Linked DNA regions of Homo sapiens: region 2 is linked to region 1. Evidence: fine-mapped expression QTL. A gene starts in region 1. The other region holds a variant in brackets. All regions are shown on one strand. Distances are between the middles of the regions. Region 1 holds the start of PBK (PDZ binding kinase). Region 2 holds the start of MIR4287 (microRNA 4287).

The links. PIP is the estimated chance that this variant, and not a neighbour inherited with it, causes the effect. A credible set is the group of variants that fine-mapping cannot tell apart.
Region 2: its variant is the best candidate, but not a certain one, in a credible set for the expression of PBK in fibroblasts (GTEx, PIP 0.61).

What each region holds. Positions count from the first base shown.
Region 1 is chr8:27,835,785-27,840,174 of GRCh38, forward strand. It overlaps PBK (PDZ binding kinase), which reads right to left and starts at 2,033. Exons shown (of 8, transcript NM_018492.4): 1 at 1,868-2,033. It also overlaps the pseudogene LOC100130612. RefSeq lists enhancers at 2,143-2,202, 2,273-2,322.
Region 2 is chr8:27,882,387-27,886,776 of GRCh38, forward strand. All of the region lies in intron 7 of SCARA5 (scavenger receptor class A member 5), which reads right to left. MIR4287 (microRNA 4287) reads right to left here and starts at 3,730; the gene lies at 3,653-3,730. The variant G/T (reference allele first, on the strand shown) is at 2,038.

The DNA of each region.
Region 1 (4,390 bases):
GTGATCCACCCGCCTTGGCCTCCCAGAGTGCTGGGATTACAGGCGTGAGCCACCACATCCAGCTTCTTCTAAGATTTCTATCTACCTATGTGAAGCTACTCTTCATTCACTCAGTCAATATGCACACACTGAGCACATACAATGTGCTCTAACAGTGCACTGTTCGAGCACATACCATGTGCTCTAACAGTGCACTGTTCTACACTCTGGAAATAGAGCAGCAAACAAGACCCAAACAAGTATGAAGATAAACATATACTATTTCAGGGGAAATATATATCAGTGAAGGGAGCAGAAGGCCTTGGGAAGGGGCTTAATATTTGAGTTTAAAGTGGTCAAGAAAGGTCTCCTTGAGAAACTCATTTGAAGGAAGTGAGGGAGCAGGCCCAAGCAAGTATCTAGTGAAAGTCTTCCAGAGAGAGGACAAGAAATACAAAGACCTGAGGCAGAAATCTTCACGAAGAGGCGAGCTAGCAAGGGGGAGAATGAGACAAAGTCAGGGAGGCTGAGGGTAGGGACTGGCAAGTCAAGTAGAGCATTGTAGCCACAGGACTGTGACTTCTACTCAACTGTAGTCACAGTCAAGATTTCAGCTTGTACTGAGAAACAGAAAGCTGTTGGAGAGTTTTGTGGAGGAGTCAAATAGGTGGGTGGATACGGATCTAGAATGCAAGCTGAAGATTTAAGTTTGTGGGATGGCAGCACGCAGACGTTATTAAAGCCAAGAGACTAGGTAAGATCATCTAGGGAGTAACTGTAGAGAGAAGAGGGGTGAGCCCTAGGGCATCCAAGCATGAGAAATGAAAAACAAAGCAACCAAGGAGGTGCCAACAAAGTAGGATGCAGAAAACCCTGGCGCGTAGAGTGTCCTGGAAATCTTATGATGAGCCTTATGAGTCTCACTGCCTTTTCCCGCTCACTCTACGGAGGATTTGATATTCAGAAGCAGCACGTTTTAAAAAAGAAAACCTATCTCTAAAAACAACTAGGTTTAAACAGAAGTCGTAACATTTCATTATGTTCTCTTACGACTGAGTCCCACCTTCTACTCTAAGCTATTTGCACCTCAATGTACCATGTCCTATCCATTTCACAGTTGTCTGAGGGCCACTTTTTTCCAGACTGCACACTCAGGTTTAGGCATTAACTGCTGACAGATAGCTTTTGGCCAGTAGCCCAGACTCTGCTTCAGATTATGTTATGTATTGTATATGCATTCTTAACATTAATTGTTAAATAACCATACTAATTCTAAATCACAAGGTTCTCATGAAGATGACAGCAAAAAAAACAGTGAATATTTAGATGAAGATAAATTAGAAATGGCAGTAGGATGACCGTGAGCAGAATTTCATACTCTGTGGAATACGTAAGATATTTTTAACAATCAAGTACTGTTTAAGAGGCAGCATTAAAGTGAGCAGCGCTCAAGCAAGCTAATCTACAGATTTACCGGGTCAAACGTCAGTGACCTTTGGGCCCTAAGCCTGGGACCCTGGGACTCAACAAATACCTGGACACTACTGACAAAGCTACGACGCGGACGGGCAGCAGAAAACGGAAAATTAAAAGAATGAGAGAAAAAGTAAAGGAGAAAAGAGAAACAAAGTAGATGTAGAAACTCCAAGGGGAAGCAAAGAGAAAGTGTGGGCCGCATGACTCTCAGGTCCTCTGCATCTCACACGCTCAGCAGGGTTCGGGGGTGGAGGTCAGACTGTTTACCCCAATCCAGGGGCTCACAAGGGGCTGGCTGCCAAAATCCTTCTTTGGCTGTAACCAGATCCTCCCCTGTCACGAAAGCCCCCGCAGAGGCCTCGGCTCCGGGCTCGGCCCCCGCCAGGGCTCGCAAAAAAAAAGCTCCTCTTACCAGAGTCTCACCGCCTGGAAGGAAAGGTCGGAGGTGAAAATAAGTCGTGGCCAAGTACCTCTTCAAAATTGGTCCCGAGCGGCCCCCAGCGAGACCCTGCAGCTGCCTCTAGCACCAACACATACGCCCGGCAGCTGCCGTTGCAATTCGAACCCTCCTGGCTTTCAAAAAGTCGCGCGCTGCGCCAGCTTCGGCCCCGAGCTACGGGGCGGCGTGAAGGACACGCCCCGCCGATTCGCCGTTCCTCCTCCCTCTCCCAGGACTCCCGGTGCCCGCAGGCGCCAAAGACGAGGGAAGGAAGGAAAGGCGCGGGGAGCACAAACTTTTACAGGAACCACCAGCCCTTCCGAGGAGCACAGCCCGGTGAATAGAACACAGTTGCCTGTGCTGAAGGCTGAAGCTCTCTCCAAACGCTCACATCTGTGTTGAATGTGTCGTGATTATGACGTCAATTTTATTATAGGTTTATGAGGCCTTGAAACACTGTAAAGACAAATGCGTAGCTTAAGGAACAATCATCTTTAGCCGAGGGAAAAAAAAGATATTTAGAAATGTTGCTAACTCATGTAATTGCCACATTCAATTCAACATTCTTTAATTTATTCAACGATTATTTAGGAACATCTGCTCCCCAGGAGGGGATGGGCCGTGGGGCAGACCAGGGGCCCAGAGCTCAGGGCAGGGGGTACCGCTTGTGGGGCCGCTCATTTCTGTTTCGAGGTACACCAAGGGTTAGAAAAACCACAGTAAGCAAAGAACTTGCATCAAGATCGGGACTGGAATCCATTAATGTAGGTGACAAAGCCCCGCAACTCTGATCAGGGCTTCTCCCCAGGAAGATGTGCCCTGAGGCATCCCCCGAGGATGGCGCAGGTCCTGAGGGTCGTGGGGATCAAAGAATATGAGCCAAGACGTATAAATCACATGTTGGAGTTTGCCTTCCCCTATGTGACCACAGTTCTGGATGATGCAAAAATTTACTCAAGCCATGCTAAGAAAGCTACTGGTGTGCAATTGCAATCCAGTGTGCGCCGACCAGTTTTTTTTTACCTCTCCGCCCCAAGAGATTTTTATTAGATATTGCAAGGCAAAGAAATCAAACCCCTTCGCCTTTGATCAAGCCGTATTCAAGTCCTAGAATGCCACCCAATAGATATTGCTTAACAGCTCCAAACTATATGTTGCAGGGAAAACCCCAAAACTAGGGTACAGCCACAGAGGCCACCTGGCTTGGAGCAGGAAGGAATTCGAGAGCAGCCCCATAGAGTAAAATGAGAGCAAGTTTATTAAGAAAGTAAAGGAATAAGAGTGGCTACTCCACAGGCAGAGCAGCCTGGAGGGCTGCAGATGGGCTATTTTTACCGTTATTTCTTGATCATATGCTAGATAGAGGATGGATTATTCATGAGTTTTACAAGAAGGCCCTGGGGATTTTCTGGAACTGAGGGTTCCTCCTCCTTTTAGACCATGTAGGGTAATAAGTTCCCCGGGTTGCCATAGCATTTGTAAACCGTCATGGCACTCAGGGGGAGTGTCTTTCGGCAGCTAAATCATTATAATTAGCCTGTAATGAGCAGTGAGGATGACCAGAGGTCATCCACTAGTGGATTTCAGTCTCAATCTTGATCCGGGTTCTTTGCCTGGAGTGGTTTTTCCAACCCTGGTGTGCCAGGAAAGGGAACGCTGAGTGGCCCCCTATGGGGTGCCCTCTTGGTTTTGGTGGGTTTGGGCCACCCTCTTTACTGCATCTGTTTTATCAGTGGGGGTCTTTGTGACCTCTATCTTGTGAAATCAGTCCTGCCAAACTTCTGTCTCATACATACAGGCTTAAGTCTTTACAGAAAAAGGCATCTACGTCTGAGGGAAGAATAACAGTCCCCATGATATCAGTGGGCCAGGGGAGGTCCTCAAATGCCGGTGGGTCCTGGACCCCCGCAGGTGTCCAGACTCTTGACACCGTCTTGAGAATGGATTCAAGGATGAGTTGGAAAATAGTGAAAGTATGGAGATTTGTTGCAAAGGGAAAAAGTACACACTTAAGAAAGGGGATTGCGGGCGTACTCAAGAGAGTCACACAGTGGGGTGTGCGGTTTCTCTCTGTATGGGTTTCTTCAACCAAGGGGTGGAATATTTATGACAATTCTTGGAAAAAGATGGAGATTTCTTGGAACTGTGGTGCCACTCGTTTTTACACCAAATATGGGTGTTCCCAGAACTGTCATTGCGCTGGTGGGTGTGATTTAGTGTGTTAATGAGCATATAATGAGGTCCTAGGTGAAACCTAGGTCAAATCCAGCACCACTTTGGGTCTAGTTGGTCTTAGCCAGCTTGGTGCACACCCTGTTTTTCAGGGGTTCATCAGCCCATAACCCCTACTCATGGGAAACTGCTGTCTGGAGTTTTTATTCTCCTGTGAACACCCTGCATTATTTCTGTCTCACCCAGATTAAATGTTGGTTCAGTTACTAGCCGACCAGGTGTTCACACACTAGGCACACCACCCCCCAAACCATGTTTGTGGCA
Region 2 (4,390 bases), 47 kb after region 1:
TCAGCTCATTTGGGTAAATATCAAGGAGTGTGATTACCAGATTTCTCTCCACTGTTTGAGACCCGGTGACCAGCAGCCTTGCCTGCTAGGGAGGAGGGTGTAGGAGAAATAGGAAGCCAAGGATGGTTAAGACTTTGTGGGCAGGTAGCATGGCTGTGTCCCGGGAAGTGTCTCAGCCCTGATTTGGTCATTCATGTTCACTTTCCCACTAGGCTGTGAGTGTGAAAGTGCTTTAAGCCAGAGAGAGCCAGTTGGGAATTCTGGTTCTGCCACTTACTATCTGCAACTGTGAGACACATTGGTTCATCAAATCTGAGATGCCACCTGTTGTAATGGGCGCCTGTTTTATATGCCACTAAGAAGGAAAAATCTCTGCTGGGTAGGTGGCAAATTATATCAAGTGCCAGGTGCTTCCTGATTTCACAGACATATAAATGTGTGTCACAGAATCAATGAAACATGGTAATAGATGTGAAGAACTCAGAATAGCACCTGGCACATAATAGGCCCTTTCGACCTGAATGACCTTAAGGTAGCCTCACAACCTCTCTAAAGGCATTTCCCCAACTGCGACATGGGAACAACATCTACACTGCAGGACTGTCATGCAAACAAAATGCAACAAAGCTAAAAGGGCTCTGGGGCACAATCCTGGCCCATGGAAACATCAGCAATGTGGGTCTGTTCCCCCTTCTCTGAGGGCTGAGCCCCTGTCACATTGATCTCTAAACTCAGTGCTTGGCACACAGCCTGGCTGGAGGAAATGAAAAATCAATGTTTGCAGAATGTAGTAGAGAGCCATTCCTGAGCATTACAATGCATTGGTTCTCCAAGGGGAAATGTTGGGGACCCAAAGAACACCAGAGCAACTGAAAGAAGCCTTTGGATCATCACAAAGCCAGGGTTTGGCTGGGAAGTCATAGTCTCAGGGTGAAACACATGGTCAGTGCCAGAGCTGGGATCACAGCTTGCGTTTCCTTATGTGTCTTCCCACATCCTTTTCACCATCCTGCCCGCCCCACTACTCTTGGGGGCTATTTCCCCTGCTGGGACCTGAGCATCCTCACTTGATAAGATACTGGAGTGGTCAGTGGGTCTTATCAAAATCATTAGGAACACCAGATTCCACGGCCAATCCAGACCTACTGAAAGAGAATCTTGGTGGCAAGAGTGAGGGATCTCTATTTTTCCAAGTGTCCCAAATAATTCAGAACAATTGGTTTGTGGGCTGTGGACTGGCATTTAGATTAGAGGGTCAATCAGCAAGGTTCCTTCTAGCTCCAACCCTCAGTAATCCAAGGCCAGAGAAGAAATCAGGGTCATCTCTTTTTAAAGCCAGAATCCACTGGTGTCATGTGGGGTAGGGGTGGACATTGTACTGGAACCCAGTGACAAGTGGGTGACACAATGCAGGAAAATGCCCATGTGAACTGCCAGAGAAAATAACAAACCTACTCAAGCCCTGCTACTAATAAGCGCGGCACTCCTGGACTTTTGTTTTTCCTTTATCTTGTATTTGGCCAAGTGGGCTGGAAGGAGCCTCCTTTTAATGACTGTGACTTGGCAAAGACTTTCATAGGTCCCGAAGGAGATGGCAGAATTGACATCTGTGCCCCATGAGAAAGGAGAGAACTCAGAACTGGCCACATGCCTGGGCCAAGAAAACCCCAGAAAATTCTGCAGAGGAACCGAGGAAGCCACCAGGAAGCGACCCCAACCCCAGGAATGATGCTAAAGACTACAGCGAGAGCACCAGGGATGCCTCCTCTCGATATTGGATGTATTTGCTGCGGATCCTTCATCCCTGGCCAGGTGACCGTTCTCCCCACACAGACTGCAAATACAAACTCATTCAGGCTGTCCCCAAACAGGCTGAGGCTATGCAAGACAACAGAGAGATCCTGGAGAAGAAAAACATGGAGAAGAGCTGGAATTCAGAGGCTGGGTCTGACACCAAGAAACTCCCCGGGAGCAGTAAGGACAGGCTAACCTGCAGCCAGCAGCACCAAGAGGGACCCGGCCGCTGCGCGGGGCCTT[G/T]GCCCTGGGTTGGCTGAGGCCAGGCTGTCAGCCCTGGTTTCTCACAGACCTGCCTCACCTCTGGCTGCACCAGGAGGCCTGCAACAGAAGCCACAGTGTGGGGTCAGCAAGTAGGGCAAGAAGTGGCAGGAGGGTGCTGTGAGTCACAGAGCAGGCCAGGCAGAAGTCAGGTGTGGGGTCAAAACAACAGGAAGAGTGTGACTGGGTGTGACTAGGCAGCCAAGGTAGACGGTCGGAGACTCCCTGACTTAGCCTCTCTGTTCTGGCCAGCCTGAACTCACTTTGTGCACCTACTCGTTTAGCCAAGTAAGTGACTGAGAGTCTATCAGACAGCTGTGGATACACCCACAAACAGAGTCCCTGCCCTCATGGAGCTGACATTCTAGGGAGAGTCTAGCAATACAGCTAGTCAACAAAAACAAAACCATAATTATAGCCAAGCGGTGATAAGAGCATAGATGGGAACAGAAGCACAGGGAGTACAGAGTGAGGCAGGCACTATTGTGGGCAAGTGAACAAAGGAGTGGAGAGTGAGGGCAGGCGCCATCTTGGACAAGTGGAGGAGGGAGGAAATGAGAGACAGGGCAGGCACCATCTTGGCCGGGTGGACAAGGAAGGAAATGAGAGAGAGGGCAGACACCATCTTGGCCGAGTGGACAAGGAAGGAAATGAGAGAGAGGGCAGGCACCATCTTGGACAGGTGGACAAGGGAGGGAATGAGAGGGCAGGTACTGTCTTGGACAAGTGAACAAGGAAGAGGGTGGGGAGTGAGAGCAGGTGCCATTTTGGACGAGTAGAGAAGGAAGGCCTTGAGTGGAGACCTGAATGAGCTGAGGAAGGACGTGGACTCCCCCACCTCAGAAAACTCCTTTCTGTACTCTGGCCTAAGCTTTCCTTGTCTTTTAGATCTCAGCTTAGATGCCTCTTCTCCTTCCCTGGTCCCCACACCCAACAGGGCCCCTTCTAGGTACATGCTTATAGCTTTGTGTCATAATTGCTATTGCTATTTACTCTCTTAGGACACTGTGAGCCTTCTGAGGATCACGTGACCTGGTACAGGGCCCGGTGCACTGAGATACCCAGCCTGTGCAAAGGGAAGGCATGCATGAATGGAGGGACTCATTAATATGGACCCAGATGGGCAGGTGCTGGCTGGAGGGCATGGCTCCCCAGAGTCCAGGGCTTTGGTGGCAACCTGAATGGAGAATCCAACATCAGGGCCCCAAATCTCCAGCATCCTCTTTATTACATCACAACACTTCTAATCACATACTTGCTGCCTTCTCTACTTGAGATGACTCTGGATTCTGGACCCAGAGCTCAGGCTGTTACAATGACCGTACATCTCAAGTGAGAGAATGGGGACATGGCTGTCAGATGATCATGGTGGGTGCAATGGGAAGTCTGGAAAATGTCATTTGGATGCTGAAATACTGAAATTCCCAAGAGGTTTCAATGTATATAGAAGTGATAGAAGAATATTTGGAAACAAGACACCTTCAAAAAATTGAAAACATATGATAACCATAATCACGGGATGCAAAGCATCAATTTCAAGGATGTCTCTGGCCCATGGCCCATGCTTACCATGCATTGAGCAAAGTCATGGCCTGCAGGGCTCCTATGGTCTCCCCAGTAGGGACCACATTGATCTCAGGAACTGAAAAGTGCCCTCAAGGGAGAAAAAGAACTAGAGAGCACCTGGGCGAGGCTGCACAAGGCACCACTCCACCCAGACCCCAGTGTCGGTTCATTAAGCATGGAGGCCTGTTCCTCACCACCTGTCCCCAGATCCCCTAGACTCAGGGCTTCCCCCCATGGTGGAGGGCCGCCTGCCCACAGGGTCAACAGATGCTGCCTGCCCCAGCAGGGTCAACACAAATCTGAAAGCCACACCTTCTCCCCTGGACTCACCCAAATCAGAGGCCACATTTTGTTGTAGCTCCACTTCACAGAGCATGGCCCTAAGCTGTGGATTTTGCATCCTTTTCTCCCCACCCAACAAAATCTCAGCTCTGTTACCACCTCTCTGGGAAACCACAGGCTGAGGTCTGACTTGCTTATGATGTAGGCTGCCCTGATTCAGGAACTCAGAGTCTAAATTCAGAAACTTGTGTCTCTGGCCTCCTTTACCCCTGAAGAGGTATAGGGGAGGCAGGCAGGCAGGAGCCTTTCCCAGAGCTGAGCAATGAGGCCACCTCCAGCAACACACTTGGGGAATCACCAACGCCCTCCAACAGTGACTACCCTCTAGCCTGAGAAGGACGTCATCATTTAAGAGGTTTGGGTTTCTGTGGGCAGAGGGTTTAAATGCTGCTTTTTCCCGGCAGTTTCTGCCCCAGGTCAAAGCTTT